4 linked regions of the Homo sapiens genome follow. The protein of the gene in region 4 purifies or fractionates together with the protein of the main gene of each other region. This does not show direct contact. Each region holds a gene or a part of one and is shown on either strand. Other genes may lie near its edges.

Region 1 (5,692 bases), on a different chromosome or scaffold from region 4:
TCCTCTGGACTGTTTCCCCTGTATGTTTCCCTGGAAGCTTCAGGCAGTGCCTCATAAGCCAATGGAATCTGTTGCTAATAGCCACAGCATATCCCTTGCATAATATGACCTCTAGATTACTGCGCCTTAATTGCTTCCCAGCTCTTCTATGCTTTGGTTTAGAAAAATGAAGTACTGACTTACGGGTGAAGAAAGTATTCAAACAGTTGACATATTTATTTCAGTCAAGAAACAGTTCAGAGGGAGATACAAACAAGTAACTTAGTTACAATATAATAGTTATGATGAGAGGAAGTACTGGATGCTAAACAATTATATGAGAGACAGCTCAGGCTGGGGGTGTCAATGAAAGCCTCTTGGAGGAAGTAGCCTGATATGTTAACTTTCTGCATGCCAGTGGTAAGTCATTTGAGATTATAGTATCTTTGTCCACCCAAGGTTTACTGCTGTAAAACATGTAATTAAAGATTTGGAAAGTTGTGTGTTTATGTATTCACTGTATAATTATTGATTGTCTACTTTGTGCCAGGCACCGTTTTAGCCACTGGTGATAGCAGTATTGAACAAAAGACACCAGTTTTCCTGGTGCTTGCATTATAATAGAATACAAATAGGAGAACAAATAAAATAATTTAAGATAATGCGATATGTGCTCCAAAAAAAATAGCAATGTGCTGGGGGCAGAGCGCTACTTTAGATTGGTTTTAGAAGGCTTCTGAGGAGATGACATTATTGCTGAGACCTATATGACAGTCAGCCACATAGTGATCTAATATGGTAGCCACTGGCCATGTTGATGGACATTTTGGTTGTTGCCAGTTGGGGCTGTTGGACATAAAGCTAGCACTTATTTCAAGTACAGTGGGAAGCCTTTGTGGGGAGTGGGGAATATGCAAGTTTAATGATGTGATTTACATTTGTAATGGATCAGTGGCTACTATTTGGAAATTCAGTCATGTATGGGAAAGTAGAATTCGAGAGCCAAATTAGAAACAGACCAAAGGTGATTTTCTTTGGGGATAAACTACCAGTAGTCTAGACCCGAATTTAAAGGTCTTATATTCTATACCTGGCTCATTTTATTGTCTGAGAAAATTCCCTGTAATCTTTGTTTTTCCTCCTCTATGTTGTGTTTATTTTATTTTCCATCACATTTATAACCCCTCAGTTAAATGATACGCTAATGAAATCTAAAACTGTAGTGTATGCTTCTAGTCTTTCAAGACCATTTGTCAGGTCTGAATATTTTTTTGCTTTGCATTTTTATATATACTCATTTTTTAGAGGTATTGTGAAATGCTTAAAACTCAATTTAAATTCTCTCCAGTGTATGTGCTTACATGTACTTATGTGTGGCTTACCCATGATTATAATTTGCCTACCACTGGAAATAATAACCAATAATGTCGAAAATTATTTGAGTACCCTCTGAGTCACACTGTAGCAAGTGCTCATTTAACTGACACAGCACTCTAGCAAAATAAATATTTTATGCCCATAAGAAAACAGACGTTCTGAGAGAGAAAGTAATTTGTCTAAGGCTACATAGCTTGTTAGTGAAAAATCTGATTTTTAAACTTGAGTCTAATTTCAAGTTCTCATTCCACTCTACTGCATTTCTCGGACTAGGACTTAAAGAGTTTAGGTTCTAGGCATTCCACAAACAGATACTGAGAACCTGCTGTTACCGGAAAGGGGTCCCAATCCAGACCCCAAGAGATGGTTCTTGGATCTCGTGCAAGAAAGAATTTCAGTGGAATCCACAGAGTAAAGTAAAAGCAAGTTTATTAAGAAAGTAAAGGAATAAAGAATGGCTACTCCATAGGCAGAGCAGCCCCAAGGGCTGCTGGTTGCCCATTTTTATGGTTATTTCTTGATTATATCCTAAACAGGAAGTGGATTATTCATGCTTCCCCATTTCAGACCATATAGGGTAACTTCCTGACGTTGCCATGGCATCTGTAAACTCTTGGGGTGCTGGTGGGAGTGTAGCAGTGAGGACAATCAGAGGTTACTGTCATTGCCATCTTAGTTTTAGTGGGGTTTGGCCAGCTCCTTTTTTTAAGAACATCACAGGTAAAGCTCACAGGAAGGTGACAGTCTAGGAGAAGATGTTCGCAGTGTCTAAATTTGACAGGGACTTATTTTATTTTCATTATTATTGTTACTATTATTATTATTTGAGGTGGAGTTTCGCTCTTATTGCCCAGGCTGGAGTGCAATGGTGGGGTCTTGGCTCACTGCAACATCTACCTCCCGGGTTCAAGCCATTCTCCTGCCTCAGCCCGCTGAGTAGCTGGGATTACAGGCATGCACCACCACGCCCGGCTAATTTTGTATTTTTAGTAGAGAGGGGGTTTCTCCATGTTGGTCAGGCTGATCTCGAACTCCCAACCTCAGGTGATCTGCCCGCCTCAGCCTCCCAAAGCGCTGGGATTACAGGCATGAGCCACCGCACCCAGCTGGTCAGCTTCTTTACTATAACCTACCTGTTTTATTAGCAGGGTTTTTGTGTCCTGCATTTTGTGCTGACTTCCTATTTCATTCTGTGATTAAGACTGCCTTAACTTACTGGGAATGTAGCCCAGTAGGTCTTAGCCTTATTTTACCAAACCCCTACTGAAGATGGAGTTGCTCTGGTTCAAACGCCTCTGACACTATGATACAGAGAAAAGGTAGAAAATAGGAAATTCTGCTCTTAAGAAATTCATATAGTTTGAAAAAACTAATTTCAGTGGAGTGTAAAGTTATAATACGAGCACTTGTTTCTGCAGTTATACCCTTCTTTGTTGATCCTTTGCCTCCCAGCCATCCGCTGTGCCATTTTCTCTGCCTCTTCACAACAAAACTTATCCAGAGTATTGTCTCAGTGTCTTTGCTTTCTTACATCCTATTCCCTCCTTGGCATACTCCAATCTGTCTTCTGTCTTCTTTACTCTGCTAAAATCGCCAGGGTCTCCAGTGATTGATGTTACCATATCCAGTGGTTGTCCTTTTGGCTTCCTTGTATTTTGAAGCACTTGCCACACTGTGAGCCCTCCTCACTTTTTTTTTTTTTTTTTTTTGAGATGGAGTTTCACTCTCGTTGCCCAGGCTAGAGTACAGTGGTGTGATCTCGGCTCACTGCAACCTCTACTTCCCAGGTTCAAGCCATTCTCCTGCTTCAGCCTCCCGAGTAGCTGGGATTACAGGCATGTGCCACCATGCCTGGCTAATTTTGTATTTTTAGTAGAGACAGGGTTTCTCCATGTTGGTCAGGCTGGTCTCGAACTCCCGACCTCAGGTGATCCACTTGCCTCGGCCTCCCAAAGTGCTGGGATTACAGGTGTGAGCCACTGCGCCTGGCATAGTCCTCCCCACTTCTTAAAACACTTGTTTTTTAACTTCCTAAATACCACACTCTTTTTTTGTGGGGGGCGGGGGGGCAGCGGGTAGAGACAGGGTTTAGCCATGTTGGCCAGGCTGGTCCCGAACTCCTGGCCTCAAGTGATCTGTCTGCCTGCCTCGGCCTCCCAAAGTGCTGGGATTACAAGCATGAGCCACCATGCCCAGCACTAAATACTGTACTCTTCTAGTTTTCCTTCTTTCTCCTGTGCTCTTTCTCACACTAAAATATTACAGTGCCAGGCTTTGTTCAGTCTCCCTGGGTAATACCCATTCCCAGGGCTTTAGATGCCATCTGTGTGCTTATAACACCCTAATTTATATATCTAGCCTAGCACTTTTCTCCCTGAAATTAAGATTGCTCTTTGACCTCTCCATTAAATTTATTTCCAATAAATATCTCAGGCTTTCCTGTTGCATGTAGTGGTACAACCATTTATTCACTTGTTCAAGTCAAAAATCAAGAATTATTCTTAATTCCTCTTTTTTCTTTATTTCTTATGTCCAATTAGAAGCCAGACTCATTGACTTTTAACTTCAAAATACATTTCAAATCAAGTCACTGGGAAAATAAAGTCAAATAACAAGTGATCTCTGCTTCCAAAGATTGTTCATAGTAGACTGGCAAACTAATTAGCAATTATGTGAAGTGTAGTAGGTATTAAAATAGAAATCATAGGAGCGTTGGGGAAGACATCTGAAACAAGCAGAACAGAGGCAGTAGGTGTGAGAAGAGTAAGAGAAGTCTCTTGCGTAAGTGATGTTTGAGCTGGTATTTTTTAGAATTTCTGTAATCGTATAAGCAGGCAGTGTCCACTTTAGACTAAGAGAACTATATTTTTTAATGCAAATGCTATTATGATGCAGAATGATTTAGCCGGGGTTCTTCAAGTAGCTTAGTGTGGCTGCAATAATGTTTTTTGAGGATTAGGTCAGATAAGGGAGCAGGATCCAAATCATGAAGTTTCCTAAGCAAAAGAGTTTGAAGCTTATGAACTGGATATTTTTGAAATAGGACTTAACACACCAGCTTTGCTACTAATTATATGACTTCGGGCAAAAGATGTTTAATGTAAGTAAAAAGCTATTGAGACCTTTTTTAAAAATTTACTGGGAATAAACATCTTAATTTATGTCTCCTGTTAAAGTGTTACTTGTTTGCTTTGAATTTAATAAAGTTAAGCTCCCTCTGCTTGAGAGTGGTCCAAAATATGCTAGGATTATTTCATATGAGCATTGAAAAAGGAATCAGTTAACTTTTTATATTCTGAAATTTTACTGCCTAATGAGATTACAGAAGACACTATGTGTGCATGAGTACGTGTGCACGAGCGTGCATGTGGAGAAGGTGCAGGAGGAGAGAAAGAGAAATCACCAATGCAACAGCAGCCTACTCCACCAGTGGGTTAGTGCTGCTGGAGGGAGATGAAAAGATTAGGAAGGTAAGATAGCTTTGAAGGCTTTGTATTCTAAATTAAGGAGTTAGATTTTTAACTGTCACGTGAGGTAGGCATTATCATCATTATTTTACAAACACAGAATCAGACTCAGAGAAGTAATCTGGACAAGGTTACACACTTAGTACCAGAGAAGCTGAGATTCAAACTCAGGTTTATTTGACTTCATAATCTTTGCTCTTATCCCTCCCCCTTGCCGCTCACTAGGTCCTCTCTGTTTAATCTCAACAATCAATACTGTACAATCTCCTTGTGAACATACAATTTCTGTAAGGACTATGAATTATGAATAATAATATATGTATTTGGGAGAGAAGAGTCTTAAAAGTTAATTCCAGTTTGTAGAAGATTGTTTAGAAAAATCATAGCTTCTTCTAAAAAGATTTAAAAAAAAGAAAAATCATAGCTTCTAAGATGATTACAAAGAAATTGGTGTGGGTTTCCAACCTGGGCAACATAGTGAGACCTCATCTCTACCAAAAATAAAAAAAATTAACCAGTCTTGGTGGCACATACCTGTAGTCCCAGCTACTTGGGAGGCTGAGCCACTGACTCCAGCCTGGGCAACAGAGTGAGACTCTGTCTTAAAAATAAATAAATGAATAAATATTGAAGGAGAGAAGGAAGGAAATATTAGTTTGCATTTTTCTAAAGCATCCAAACTGTTGGAGATGGATAAGTGCATTTATACCATGAAGACTTTCTAGATCTATTGTTTCATTTCATTTATTGCCTAAGCCCAGAGGAACAAAGCTGCAGTGAGCTATGATCATGCCACTACACTCCAGCCTGGGCGACAGAGTGAGACCTGTCTCAAAAAAAAAAAAAAAAAACCCAACAAACAAAACTCC
Region 2 (5,692 bases), on a different chromosome or scaffold from region 4:
TGCCACCCACAGAGCCACAGAGGGGACTGGGGTAGAGCAGGCCAGGTGCCATGAACTGCCCTGTCTTGAACCAGGGCTGGCTTCTCTGAGACCAGCGATCTCTGTCTAATTGCTGCCTTATTCCTTCTCCAGGTCCTTCCAACCCTCCTGCTACCATGAAGATTGCAGTGATTGGACAGAGCCTGTTTGGCCAGGAAGTTTACTGCCACCTGAGGAAGGAGGGCCACGAAGTGGTGGGTGTGTTCACTGTTCCAGACAAGGATGGAAAGGCCGACCCCCTGGGTGAGTGAGCCAATGGAGCAGGGAAGCTGATGGAGGGCGGCCCGCCCATCCAGGTAGAAGGGAAGCAGTAGGTGGGAGTCTGGGAGCAGAAGTCTGCAGGGCCTGTGCTCTAGCTGGGAGGCAGCCATAAGTGGTCTACCTTGAATCCTGCTCCAGTGCCAACAGGCTGCTGGGCTTTTCTGGAATAAATTGGAGATCCCCTCCCCACCTGATCATGGGGTGGCATTAGGGTCCTGGAGAAGGGCTATAGAGAAGCCCAGCCTGGTCCCAGGTCCCACACAGAGCTTCTCTGACCCAGCACCCATGATTGGGAAGGTCTCCATGTTCTGAACTGGGGGTCCATATTCTGAAAGGTGGGCATGCGCGGCATCACCATTGCTGGGGCTGCCGTCAAAACACATAGTGCTCTACTTACCCATCAGGGGAGAGACCATGATCACAAAGGTGGTTTTCCCAGGGCGAGTCTTCTCCATTGTACTCTGGATGTGCTGATCCCTGCAATTTCCCCAAAGGTGGGAAACTCGACTTCATAATTTGTGGTAATGGGGAACTGCATTTGCACTCTCCCCTGGCATTTTGTAAAAGAAAAGAAAAAAACACAGAGAGTACTAAGCGCACCCTGAGAGTTTCGGATTCAGAATGAGGTGGAAAAGTCAGAATTAGGTGAAATTGTTAACCTGGGACAAGTTCCTGGGAGATACTGGCATCTCTTGTACTAGGAAAAGCACGTTTTGAGAATCATGGGTCTGGGTCACTGCCTTTGAGCTGGGAACCTCAGCAGACAGGATGCAGGGGCCTCAGCTTGGATGAACAGACCCTCTAGGAACACTGACTGGTCCTTCTCAGGCCTGATGGAGACAGACTGTGGGGCAGGGCTTAAGGATAGAGGGCCAGGATTAGGAAAGGGGGCTTGTAGGCCTGGCCAGGCACAGAGGTGTAGTTTGTTAAGGAAAGCCAGTCTCCCTCAGTGGGGAAGCTGCAGCCTGGCCCTAGAATCAACTCCAACACTCAACACCCAATGCCAGCCAGGCTTCAGTCTTGGACCTGACCACAAGTGACCCATGACATACCCTGACCCCACCACAGCCTGGGTCCTACACCCAGCCACTAAGTGACCACTGACCCCAGCTGCTGACCCTGGACCCAGACCAGGCCTGGCTGGGACTCCTACTTGGCCTTGATCTCAGATGTCCTGAAGCAGTATTTCATTGGTCACTGTGGGACAGCTTTTGCAAGTGCAGTCCAATCTGCTGACATCACATCCCACCCTCTCTCAAAACTACCAGACACCAGGACAGAGTGACAGAGGAGGAGACCGGAGAGGAGAGCCAGTCCAGTCAGGGCCCAAACATCACACCAGAGGCTCTAACAGAGAACTGAATACAAAGAAGTGTTCCTTGGGTATTGAAGAGTGGAAGGCAGAGAGCCCAAAGTTATTGGGGACAGCGACTGCAGGAAGCAGCTGCCACTGTAAGGCTAAGATAAAGGAGGACGCTTTAACTATAAAAACTTGGGAGCTTGGGCCTGTAATCCAGACCTGTGAGGAGGGTGTGCTGGTGACGGGGCAGGAGGAGGGGCCCTGCAGGCTGTATCTGGTCCTCTGGGGTGTGTGTGTGTGTGTGTGTGTGTGCACGCATGTGTGCATATTGAGGCTAGTTCTGCAGATGATGGAAAAACTGATTTAGCCATTGCTCTGAGAAGGAACGACTGTGACTGGGATGAAGAAGCTGGGCTGGGGGAGGCTCACAGGACAGGAACCCACTGGACAGAAAGGAGTGGGGATGCCCTGTTGCCCTTCTTCCCCTTCTTCCTCCATCAGGGAACAGCTGACAAAGCAGAAATGCCATCTGCAGGGGGGCAGTCCCCATCACAGAGTGAGCAGTAGAGGGGGCCGGAAGACAGTAACTCAGTGACGGGGATGGCAAGGCCTCAGGAGAGGAATGAGGGCAGAGGTCAGCCATCTGGGTTCTGGAAGAGGGAGGCACTCAGAGGTCCTGGGGTTCAGCAAAAGTCAGGATGCAGGCAGGGCAGTCCCCAGAGCCTCATGCTTGGCTGGTGCATCCGTCTGTGTTGCCCAGTGGAGCCTGGCTGGGGTGTGGGTGAGGGGGCAGGAATGGAGAGAAGTCCTATGAGCTGCTCTGCTGGGAAGGCAGAGGTGGCTGCGTGTGGGTGGGTTATGGAGAGGGGCCAGTTTCTTATCCACCGTCCCACAGGTCTGGAAGCTGAGAAGGATGGAGTGCCGGTATTCAAGTACTCCCGGTGGCGTGCAAAAGGACAGGCTTTGCCTGATGTGGTGGCAAAATACCAGGCTTTGGGGGCCGAGCTCAACGTCCTGCCCTTCTGCAGCCAATTCATCCCCATGGAGATAATCAGTGCCCCCCGGCATGGCTCCATCATCTATCACCCGTCACTGCTCCCTAGGCACCGAGGGGCCTCGGCCATCAACTGGTGAGATGGGGCAAAAACACAGGGGGCCATCCCCATACATGTCCCTCCATCAGCCTGACTTGTCACTTTCCATTAGCCCAAAGCATTTCTAGGGCTGCAGAGTGGGCATCGTGCAGGTGCCTGTCCTGTGGCTGCCAGATGTCAGCCACAGAACAGGCTGTGCAACGTTATCAATGAGTGAAGGCTCTAGAGCACTGGGAGCAGGTGTTGCTAAGCACTCTGCATTCCCACAGTTATTGGAGAAGCTGGCACTGTCAGTGTTCCCATCCCCCAGCTGAGACAGAGAGGGCACCAGAAGGCGCAGGGACAGAGAGGGCACCAGGAGGCGCAGGGGCCAGGGTGCCACCCCAGGCGGTGGGCTGGGGGTCCTACTCTAACTTCCACTGCCGCTGCTCTGGGCAGCACACTTCGTAGAAAGAGATAAAGATGGAGCAAAGGATGGCCTCCACAAGGTACTCTGAGGGGACAGAATTCCCAAGACAACAAATGGGGTGACAAGGCAGATGGGTGGTCAAAGAGGGAAGACATTTGAGTTGAGAAAAGAGAGTGGATTTGTAGTCGGACTGGTCTGTTGAGATTCAGGCTCTCTGATCTTTGTGGGTGTCGCTTCACTTTTCTGGGCCTTAGTTTCCCTATCTGTAAACCGAGTATACCTGTTATCCCTGCTGTGAGGACTCAGTTACATAAGGCATATAGAGCTTTTAGCACAATTCCTGGCCCATGGTTGTTATCAATACATGCTGTTTTCCTTCTTCCGTTTCCCGCCGGAGCCGGTGTCAGTCCTACCCCTGGGAAGAGAGGGCCTCCTGGAGGGTGGCAGGTCCACGGGCCTGTACCCAGGACATCCTCCGTGGCCCTTCATCGTGGACTCCAGGTTTCACTCTTCTGCTTCCTAGGACCCTCATTCACGGAGATAAGAAAGGGGGGTTTTCCATCTTCTGGGCGGATGATGGTCTGGACACCGGAGACCTGCTGCTGCAGAAGGAGTGTGAGGTGCTCCCGGACGACACCGTGAGCACGCTGTACAACCGCTTCCTCTTCCCTGAAGGCATCAAAGGGATGGTGAGGACCTGGAGCCGGCCGCGCCCTGCCCGCCCCGACGCACCCTCAAGCATCCTCCCTAGACCCAGCCCACCGCTCCTGGAGGCCAGGAATCTGTTCCCCAAATTCAGGATTCTGGAGGGAGAGGAGCTCTCACTTCAAGGTTTCAGAGGCAGGATTAGGACAAACAGTGTATTGTATTAGGAGGGAATCTTGCTCACAACGGACAGAACCCAGCTCAAAAAGCGTTTGGCAAAAAGGGGACATTTTGGGGCCCGTTCAATAGACAAGGAAGGCTAAAGGCAGGGACTGGGTCACACCCTGCTGAATCCAGGAGCTTCAATTATGACATCGTTAGGATTCTATTTCTCTCTCCTTCACTCGTTGATTCTCCTTTTCTCTGTGTGATTTGTTTCATTCTCAGTTTGGCTGCCCTGAATTAGAGGAAAGATAGCCACTATAGCTCAAGGATTCTAATTCTTGATTCCAGGGAAAGAGAAACACTTTTTCTCCTAGAATTCATCAATCACAAATCAGGGGAGATTCTGATTGGCCAGCTTGGGGGTCATGTGATCCTCATGAGCCAATCACCAGCTGGGGTGATGGAGTGCTCTGATAGGCTGTCTCCGTCACATGCTTCCTGCTGGGAAGGCCGTGACCTGTGGTCACATGGCCTGAGCGGCAGGGCGGCTCAGTCACCTGGGCAGCTGGTACTGCTGAGAGGCAGGGTGGCAGGCTATGGGCCGGAGCCCACAGCTGCAGGAGGGGCCCGGGGATCATATGTGAGGGCTGCTTGCCCCTGCCCGAGGACAGGCTGGCAGGGACGGCCACAGGCAGAGGTGCTGTCCAGGCATGCAGCAGGAGGGAAGGAGGCCCTGGGGAGCCCTTGCTGTTTGGGCGCAGCAGGAAGAGCAGCTGCAGTGTCCACTGTCCCCTCGTCCTCCTCAGCTCCTGGCCACTGCCTTTTATTTTTCGGTTGTGTTAAACTTGTCTTCCCCACAGATTGACCAGCTCACAAAAATAGTGAACAAAGTAGAGTTGCTGGAGATTTAGTGGTACAGAGAGGGAGCTTACCTGTGCTTCCCACGGCAAGCAACTCAAATACTCCTTGAAGCTGCACTGTCCAACAAGGCAGCCACTGGTAACATGCAGCTATTAAATCAATTAAAATGAATTATACTGAAAAATTCAGTTCCTCAGTCTCAGCCACATTCTAAGTCCCCTGGCCACCGTGTTGGACCGTGCAGACTTGGAACTCATCCATCACCACAGAGGGCTCCATTGGGCAGCCCTGCCTCAGATGCTCTGACACCCGGTCACTTCCCATTCTTGGCACCTCCCGGTCTCTTCCCTCAGGCTCTTGCTCACGTGGGCCCAGACTCCTTGGCTCTCCTTCTCCCTCTCTGATTCCTTTCCCACCACCTTCCTCTTTCCTGTCACAGAGAAACAACTTCCTGCTTCATCTCAGACCTCCAAACTTCCACCTTCAAGCCCACCACGGGGCTCAGGACCCACTCTCTTTAAAGGCAGAGAAGGCTTAGACAGCAACATGGACATTTGTGTCTGTGTTATACCTGCAGGGCTTTACAGTTTATATAATCATCTAAGATATCAGAAGATGTAAGATCTATGTAATCTAAACCTTTGCCAGGTAGAGAGGACGGGTCTGTGTCCGTTGTGCAATAGAAGTTAGGTTCACGCTGACTCCCTTGTTCATATGGCAGGTGTTTCTTGGGTGACTGCTGTGTACCAGGCAAGTCTGGTCAGTCTGGGGAAGGGTCCAGGCTCAATGTGGGCCCTGGGGCTGGGAAGGAGGCAGGGTCCTATTGCTGGGGATAGCAACCCACTGGATCTCCCCAGGTGCAGGCCGTGAGGCTGATCGCTGAGGGCAAAGCCCCCAGACTCCCTCAGCCTGAGGAAG
Region 3 (3,500 bases), on a different chromosome or scaffold from region 4:
AAAAATTAGCCGGGCATGGTGATGTGCACCTGGAGTCCCAGCTACTTGGGAGGCTGAGGTGGGAGGGTCGCTCGAGCCTGATCGCTTGAGAGGTGAAGAGTTGCAGTGAGCCCGCTGATCACGCCGCTGCACTCCAGCCTGAGCAACAAAGCAAGACTGTGTCTCAAAAAAAAAAGATCACAGCTGTGCTATTGTCTCTGCCATTTTTAGCTCTGTGATTGTGGGCAAGCTAATTAACTTCCCTTCTGATTTTAAAGTAAGAAGAATGTGAGGAAAAGCAGTTTAAAAACTGTAAAACTTTAAGTAGGCTTAAGCTCCAGGGAAATTACAATGCGTTTCGATTGGAAAGGCTTACCTGAATACTTGGTACCTAACCTCTCTTGGATGACCAGTCAATATTGCTCAATGTTTGAGGCTTTGTGCCTGTATCCAAAATGTACTGATAGAAATCACTTTCTAGGTCACAGGTTATCAGCATGAGTTTTGCCCCTAGAACACTCCTATTTTCATCTACTCGATTCCTTTAAAAACATCAGAGTTCTTACAATATGTGTGTAGTCTTTACCATTTTAAGAAATGGAATAATGAAAGGCATGGAGGAGTTGAAAGATGGTTACTAATGTGGGGCTAATCAAATTGAGTATTCCCTCTAGGCCAGGTGCCGTGGCTCACACCTGTAATCTCAGCACTTTGGGATGCTAAGGTAGGAGGATCACTTGAGCTCAAGAGTTGGAGACCAACCTGGGCAATATGGCACAACCCCATCTCTACAAAAAACTAGCCAGGCACGGTGGCACACACCCATAGTCCCAGCTACTCGGGGAGGATCACTTGAGCCCGGGAGGTAGAGGCTGCAGTGAGCCGTGGTCACGCCACTGCATTCTAGCCTGGGTGACAGAGTGAGACCCTGTCTCAAAAAAAAAAATTGTATCCCTCTAGGAGGGGAACAACAGACACTGGAGCCTACCTGAGGGTAGAGAATGGGAAGAGGGAGAGAATCAGAAAAAATAACTGTCAGGTACTATGCTTATTACCCAGATGATGAAATTATCTGTACACCAAACCCCCAGGACATGCACATGTACCCGTGAACCTGAAATAAAAGTTAAAAAAACCTCCCATGCCTCTGCCCTTCAGATGCTAGTAGCACCTGCTTTCCCCCAGAGTTTCAACAAACAGAAATGTCTCCATAAATTGTCAGTGTTCCCTAGCTAGGCAACCCCTTCCTCTCTCTCTGGCTAAGAATAACTTTCCTTGTGATCTGGATTATAAACTTGTCTCAAGCAATAGATACATAGTTTTCATACCTGTGTTCTTTAATCTGTACTTCATTTTCAATCTCAAAACTAGCATTGTAATTGTAAAATGAACATAATTTATTACATTTTTAAAAAAAAAATTGAGTATCCCTGCTCCTATATTTAGATTGTTTAAAAATTCAGTATTTTGAAATTGTGTTTAGAATTCTTAAAAGACAGAGGCTGGAGGGCTGGGGCTGAGGGAGGGTGGTGGGCCTGCGGGGACATTCTTACTGTGCAAACATAGCGATAAAAACATGTCATTTTCCAAAGCAAAAACAAAAACAAAAAAAAAGAATTCTTAAAAGGTATACCAGAAGACACAAGTCTATGGTTTCTGAGTTTCTATGCTTAACATTTTAAAGAACTTGAAAAATAAGTGCTTTTCACACCATTTAACAAGAATGATGCTTTCTCTCCTTGTGGTAGGGAGCAATGGGCAGTGGCTTTGTTATGATTGAGGGTCTTGGAGGATACAGACCATTGTTTTTTCTTTTTCTTTTTCTTTTTTTTTTTTTTTCTTCCTGAGACAGGGTCTCTATGTAGCCCAGGCTTGTCTCAAACACTAGGCTTAAGTGACCCTCCCACCTCAGCCTCCTGAGTAGCTGGGACTACAGGCAAGAGCCACTATGCCCAGCCAGACCATCTTTTGAAAAATGAAAACTTTTCCAGAAGTGTTCTCTTTTATAATCTAGTATGTCCTTGACATTCAGGGTATTCCTTTCACTCGGCAGTTAATGACAGTGATGTAGATAGACAGGTGGCTGCATGTTTTCAGGGTCTGAATTGTGGATAAGTAATAATGAAAGCTTTCTTCAGGCCCAGTTCAGAAGTTGGTTTAAGGTATCTGTGCTTCTTACTATTGCCTAGGTACTAGGAACAGCCAAGCAACCTAGAGCCACAGCAACACAAAATGAGAGGCAAGCTATTAAAAGAACTGGCACCAACACTAGTGAGGGGGAAGGGTGATAATGGCAGTGTCTCCTGATTCTCTAGAAAAAACTATGCAGTAGTAATTGAAAAGCAGAAAAGGGCCGGGTGCGGTAGCTCACGCCTGTAATCCCAGCACTTTGGGAGGCTGAGGCGGGCAGATCACTTGAGGTCAGGGGTTCAAGACCAGCCTGGCCAACATGGCAAAACCCCATCTCTACTAAAAATAAAAATAAAAAAATTAGCCGGGCGTGGTGGCGGGTGCCTATAATCCCAGCTACTTGGGAGGCTGAGGCAGGAGAATCGCTTGAACCCGTGAAGTGGAGCTTGCAGTGAGCTGAGATCGTGCCACTACAGTTCAGCCTGGGCAACCCAGTGAGACTCTGTCTCAAAAAAAAGAAAAGCAGAAAAGGTTGGTTGGAGGGTTGTGGGTTATTGTTAAACTGATTAACATTGTCTCCCCCCACAGCCATGCTTGATTTGCTTTGTATTTAAAGAGAAAGAAAAACAGAAAGGACCTGCATTTGGTCACAAGGTCTTACGGCTGCATATGCTCCTTGAATTCTCTACATACTGGCCTCACCAGGCTCTGTACTAGGATGCAGGATGGTTACAAATAAAAGTGGAGTGATAATAATTTAGTAACGATGACTATTAGCGAACATCAGGCACTCTGCCAATTTAGGTTTTGAGTGTTTTTTTCATCATTAGACCAGCCCTGTGAGATAGGTAGTTTTATGGCCCCATTTTACAGATAAGGAAAGTTGATGCTTGATTTACTTGCCAGTGCTCACACAGCTGGCAGGTGGCTGAGCTATTATTTGAATCCGTACAGTTTGCCCAGTACTGAAATTACCCAAGGCAAACTATTAAAAGAAACATTACAAGAAATAAGAGCCTGGGAAATCCAAAAAACTGGAAATAATCTGCCCTTTAATAACAGAGAATTGACTGTACACACTAATTAATTACAACGATTGAGACTGCAGCAGTCTTTAACTTGTCAAGGGAGCATGAATTAAACTCTGTACTGCCATCAAGTGTGCCCCATGGAGGAGTGAGGTGTATGAGTGCTGACTAGCCACAAGTACATTAAGAGAACCTTTGTTGGGAAAGAAATGTTCATGAGGTAATTCACGAGTTTATCAGCATGGTGAACACGGAGAACTTCCATGGTACCATACTGAAACATGTGGCTGATTCACAGTGGATGAGTGATTACTAGGAGAACTTGAGCGATTCTCCTGCAACAACCCCCAGCTCCTTCTCACC
Region 4 (5,692 bases):
CAAAAAATTAGCTGGGCATAGTTGTGGGCCCAGCTACTTGCAAGGTAAGGCAGGAAGACAGCACGAGCCCAGGAGGTTGAGGCTGCAGTAAGCCATGTTTGTGCCTCTGCACTCCAGCCTGAGCAACAGAGTGAGGCCCTCTCTCAACAACAACAACAACAAAAAAAGTATCAAAGACCTAAAGAAAGAGCTCAGATGGGATGATTTCTGGGGTATGTTTTCTAGCAATAAAATTTATGGTTATATGAAAAGAAAAAATGCATTAATTTAACTATTAATTCATTCTATAAACACGTTGCTTATCTACAATGTGGCAGTCGTTATGCTATGTGCTGGCAAGATGTGTATTATAAAATTCTTGTCTTTAAGGACCTCCCAATATAATGGGGAGACAGGAAAAGTTTAAAATGATGTAGTAATAGCAGAGAGGTAAATATAGTGATTTGACTCCTATGGCTTCAACTACTATCTACATGTAACAACTCTCCCCAAATTCCAGACTCATATATCCAACTGCTACTGAAATCTCCACTTTACTAGTGAGTTATATTTATCCTTTCCTCCTCTCTTTTTTTTTTTTGAGATGGAGCCTCGCTCCCATCACACCAGGCTGGAGTGCAGTGGCACGATCTCAGATCACTGCAATCTCCACCTCCCGGGTTCAAGTGATTCTCCTTCCTCAGCGTCCCGAGTAGCTGGGATTACAGGCATGCGCCACCAGGCCCGGCTAAAATTTTTGGATTTTCAGTAGCAATGGGGTTCTGCCATGTTGGTCAGGCTGGTCTTGAACTTCTGACCTCAGGCAATCCACCCGCCTCAGCCTCCCAAAGTGCTAGGATTATAGGCGTGAGGCGCCACGCCCGGCCTTCTTCACCCTTAAGATCTGAATATCAGTAAGATTACATACATGACTGTGAAATAAGTCCATCTGAAACATAAAGATAAACCAGGTACGTTTTAGAATTTTGAGATTTTGGAATGTTAACTGGGTACCTTATCTCAGTTTACAGGGGAACAACACTCTAATCAAATGCAGTAACATTTTAGAGCTAAACATCTACTAATTGGGATAAAGATCATAATAGCTTTGTGTCAGTTTAGGTCAGGTTTTGCCCATTCTCAACAGCCTCCAATCAGTTAAAAAAAATCATTTGTTTTCTAACAGGCTTTTGGATTTTAGAATCCAAAGAGATGAGGAATTATCACTCAAGCTCTCTAGTCTTCCATTAAGATGTCTCAAATAAAATGTAATCAGGGCCAGCTGCGGTGGCTCATGCCTGTAATCCCAGCACTTTGAGAGGGCAAGGCAGGTGGATTGCTTGAGGCTGGGCTTCCAGACCAGCCTAGCCAACATGGCGAAACCCTGTCTCTACTTAAAATATAAAAAAATTAGCTGGGTGTGGTGGCACATGCCTGTAATTCCAGTTACTCAGGAGGCTAAGGCACGAGAATCACTTGAGCCTGGGAGGTGGAGGTTGCAGTGAGCAGAGACTGTGCCACTGCACTACAGACTGGGTGACAGAGTGAGACACTGTCTCAAAAAAAAGCAATCACCCTGTAAAGACTCTCATCTTCACTCATCTGAGTTACTGACAAGGCTTCCTACTTCCAATTTATTCTCTATTCTGTCAGAGTGATTCTTCTAAAATGCAAATCTGATTGCGCCTACATTTTTCAATAACATTCTATTGCTTAAAAGGATGTAGCTCAAACTTTTTGCAAGATATACAAAACTACATATTATATATATATATATATATATATATATACACACACACACACATATGAATATGAGACTATTGCAGGAGCTGCTAACCTGTATTGTAGAAATAGGCAAATGACATGTTTAACCAAAGGATTTAGTCTTCTCTCTTTAATTATACAATTTCATTTTGTATCTTGTTCAAATTATCACTATTAAAGATTTTGGGAATTATTTTTTAGGCAGAGCAGAGCAGGATGATGTGGAAGATAAAGAAATGTGATATCTGGATGGATGGATGCTAGTCTTTGAATATCACTGGCTGGCTTGTAAGTATAATAGAGTAAGTTCATCTTGCCATCTGGCTAATGTAAAATGGAAAGCAGAGGTACTTGCCAATAAGAACTGCAGAACTGAATGAATTCAATAAGGTTTAGATCGGCAACACTTGATCATCAAACATTTCCAATTTCTAAATTCAGGTCCAGTGTCAGTCAAGTTGTGAGTTCCAGAATTACCTGATGTGAACTTCAAAAAACAGATCTGGGGCCGGGCATGGTGGCTCACTCCTGTAATCCCAGCACTTTGGGAGGCCGAGGCAGGTGGATCACCTGAAGTCAGGAGTTCGAGACCAGCCTGACCAACGTGGTGAAACCCTGTCTCTACTAAAAAATACAAAAAAATTTAGCTGGGCATGGTGGTGGACGCCTGTAATCCCAGCTACTTGGCAGCTGAGGCAGGAGAATTGCCTGAATCTGGGAGGTGGAGGTTGCAGTGAGCCAAGATCATGCCATTGCACTCCGGCCTGGGCAACAAAGCAAGACTCCGTCTCAAACAAACAAACAAACAAACAAACAACAGATGTGTAGGCCTCAACCATAGAGATTTTCATTACGCAGATGTGGGGTGAGATCCAGGAATCCGCATTTCTAAAAAGCTCTCCAGGATTTCTGATATACAGTTAGACTGCAGAAGTTGATACTGAAGAGTCCCCAAACTTTTAGGCAGTAATTTGTTGCTAAGGTAACAAGAGGTATAGAATCATGAAATTTTAGCACCTCTAAGACTTTCTACAGAATGACAAGTTGAAACTCCCTATTTTTTTTTTTTTGAGACAGGGTATCCTTCTGTCACCCAGGCTGAAGATCTCACTGTGCCTCAACCTCACTGCAGCCTCGACCTCCCAGGCTGAATCAATCATCCCACATCAGCCTTCCAAGCAGCTGGGATTACAGGCGTGCGCCACCATACCCAGCTAATTTTTAGTCTTTTTGGTAGAGTTGGGGTTTTGCCATGTTGCCAAGGCTGGTCTCGAATTCCTGAGCTCGGACAATCTGCTCGCCTTGGCCTCCCAATGTTCTGGGATTACTGGCGTGAGCCAGTATGCCTGATCAGAACTCCCTATTTTTTTCAGTCAGGAAAATTAGGAGTCCTGATTAGTTCAGTCACACCAATCGTGGCTGGATCTTTTGCCTTCTAACATTCCCACTACACATGCTACTTTTCTGTTCCTTAGTTAACTTATATAGGTAATAGCTCTTTAAGCAGACATTTTAATTTACCTAAAAGCAGTAACTACTTTTTCTACTTTATTACACCCTATAAAAGTGGACAGAGTTGGAAATCAGTGGATGCTTGCTGAAAGAAGGAAATGTGCATTCTTCTCTACAGGTGTTTTCACAGCTGCCGGGGCATCTTTATAAAGCTTCCCCAGGTCTCAGTGATAAAGACCATGGCTTTTACATTACATCATTTCTCATAGAGGGAATGGTTGATACATGACATGTGACAGCAGGATTACTTTATCAGGTAAAGGAATTACTAAATGAACTATTAATACTTGGAGTTATTGAGTCAGGTTAAAGTTTCCAGGTAGTGGGAATCTATAAAAGAGAACGGAAAAGTTGCTTCAGGAACAAATGGAGGGAAGAAATAGTCAACCTTCTGTTTAGAATGTGAGCTAATATCACAGCTGTTACTCTGATGGTAATTCCTGTCTACTATTTATAAACTAAGTGTTAAGACAAAGTACGACATGACAAAATGTTCTAAACACAATGCAAAATAAAATAACCTAAAGGTCCAAAATTTAGTTCAATAGGTGAAATTAAAAATTTTATCTTTCTGAAGTAGGAAAGATGTACAAAAAACACAAAAATGAAATAAAAAGAAGTTATAAAGAATTTCTAAATGAGTAAAGAAAGTACTAAACTAAGGCAAGACACTACAAAAAGGAAAAGAATTTCAAAGACTAAAACATAAACAGTAAAAGTCTAGGAAGACTAGGGGGCTAACATATAAAATGTTAAAAGCAAAAGAGACACACACAACACCTAAATAGGTATCAGCTAAGATAGCGGCAAAAATTGAACAAAAACTAGAAAAACTGAGAAAAATTAGATTGAAAAGATAGTTTCTAAAATGAGAAGAATCTGCCCAAGTGTCCATCAATTACAGGAATGGATAAACAAAATGTGGTTTATACATACAAAGGAATATTATTCAACTATAAAAAGAAATGAAGTTATGATACATGCATACAACACAGATGAACTTTGAAAGCCACTGAATTGCATACTTTAAAATGGATCAAGTGGAAAACTTTGTTATACATATATTTTACCCGAAGAAAGGAGGAAGCCAAAACAGACTAAAAGAAAAATCAGTATGCGACAAAACCAGAAATTAAAATAAAAAAAATATTAAAATCATAAATTTGTGAAACTATTGCAAGAATACCACCCCCAAATATCATTAAGGAACCTAAGGAACATAAGAAGTAAAAGGTAGGAGAGGGATGTCAAAGCAGCAGCAGCACAAATAGATCATTTAATCCTACTTACTGTAGGATGACCATATAATTTACCATTCTAACCAGGACACTTTTGAGAGGAAAGGGGACACTATTAATAATTACACAGGGACAACAGGTGTAGGCTGGAGCTGTGCCAGGCAAAAGTGGTTATGTGGTTACTCTCTATATAAGGGCAATCAGGTCCTTAAGGTTGAGTTCACGCCCACAGCTTGGGGTCTGGCAGAAGTACAATACTCTGACAGTGTCTTCCTGAATGACTCAAGTGGTCAAAAACGCAAGATTATTTTTCATTTTTTTACAGAGAAATAAAATACAATTCATGGCCTTTACTGAAGTTTACTGATTTGTGATTCATAAAACAATTAGCGTATCATTAGATTTTATTAAGAGCTATAATTTAGTGTTCTAGGAAATTTAGAAGGCCGAATTATACTTTGAAATGCACTGGCAGGCATACTAAGGAAGTCCTGAGGTGAATCATTTTTTATAAACCTACATTTTTATATATTACATTAGAGCCCTATAAATATATGTATACACTTTTTTTTTTTTTTTTTTTTTCAGACAGAGTCTCCCTGTCACCCAGGCTGGAGTGCTGTGGTGCGATCTCAGCTCACCGCAACCTCTGCCTCCTGGGTTCAAGAGATTCTCTGCCTCAGCCTCCCAAGTAGCTGGGATTACAGGTGGGTGCCATGACGCCTAGCTAACTTTTGTATTTTTAGTAGAGACAGGGTTTTACCATGTTGGCCAGGCTGGTCTCGAACTCCTGACCTCAGGTGATCTGCCTGCCTCGATGTATATACTCTTTTATACTTACTTTTGACTAGAGACAATTGAGACTTGAAAATTAGAAAAATCAAGTTAGAATTACTGAGAAAATTAGTAGCTCTGATATTCTACCCATTCTTTATTTTTAAATTAAAATTAATCTTAATGACCTACAAATAGGTTAACTTAAACAGTCCATACCTTACATGAGAAGCTCCGACTTGGGATGTTTCTTGCTAACTCTGATATCTTGGGTTTATTCTGAAGACACTTGGTTAGGTGATATTTTTTCAATTTTATTCTATTGTAACAATGATCAGCGAAGTTATAGTGATTCAAATGCTGTTTCTGCATGCATTTTCCAAGGTGAGGAATACTATACTTCAAAGCTTGGAGAAATAATTTGG

What was found.
Region 1: the proteins of PREPL (region 4) and XPNPEP3 purify together in Homo sapiens (co-immunoprecipitation; one large-scale study listed by IntAct). This does not show direct contact.
Region 2: the proteins of PREPL (region 4) and ALDH1L1 purify together in Homo sapiens (co-immunoprecipitation; one large-scale study listed by IntAct). This does not show direct contact.
Region 3: the proteins of PREPL (region 4) and GOT2 purify together in Homo sapiens (affinity purification with mass spectrometry, with the first as the bait; one large-scale study listed by BioGRID). This does not show direct contact.

What each region holds. Positions count from the first base shown.
Region 1 is NC_000022.11:40,862,281-40,867,972, forward strand, and holds part of XPNPEP3 (xaa-Pro aminopeptidase 3), read left to right. Parts: exon of another isoform or gene 1-492; intron 493-5,692. UniProt on the Homo sapiens protein: Catalyzes the removal of a penultimate prolyl residue from the N-termini of peptides, such as Leu-Pro-Ala. Also shows low activity towards peptides with Ala or Ser at the P1 position.
Region 2 is NC_000003.12:126,155,443-126,161,134, reverse strand, and holds part of ALDH1L1 (cytosolic 10-formyltetrahydrofolate dehydrogenase), read left to right. Parts: intron 1-132; coding exon of another isoform or gene 133-155; coding exon 156-282; intron 283-697; exon of another isoform or gene 698-850; intron 851-959; exon of another isoform or gene 960-1,052; intron 1,053-2,495; coding exon 2,496-2,730; intron 2,731-3,626; coding exon 3,627-3,792; intron 3,793-5,631; coding exon 5,632-5,692. UniProt on the Homo sapiens protein: Cytosolic 10-formyltetrahydrofolate dehydrogenase that catalyzes the NADP(+)-dependent conversion of 10-formyltetrahydrofolate to tetrahydrofolate and carbon dioxide.
Region 3 is NC_000016.10:58,727,817-58,731,316, reverse strand, and holds part of GOT2 (aspartate aminotransferase, mitochondrial isoform 1 precursor), read left to right. Parts: intron 1-3,500. UniProt on the Homo sapiens protein: Catalyzes the irreversible transamination of the L-tryptophan metabolite L-kynurenine to form kynurenic acid (KA). As a member of the malate-aspartate shuttle, it has a key role in the intracellular NAD(H) redox balance.
Region 4 is NC_000002.12:44,354,011-44,359,702, forward strand, and holds part of PREPL (prolyl endopeptidase-like), read right to left. Parts: coding exon of another isoform or gene 5,487-5,692; intron 1-5,486. UniProt on the Homo sapiens protein: Serine peptidase whose precise substrate specificity remains unclear. Does not cleave peptides after a arginine or lysine residue. Regulates trans-Golgi network morphology and sorting by regulating the membrane binding of the AP-1 complex.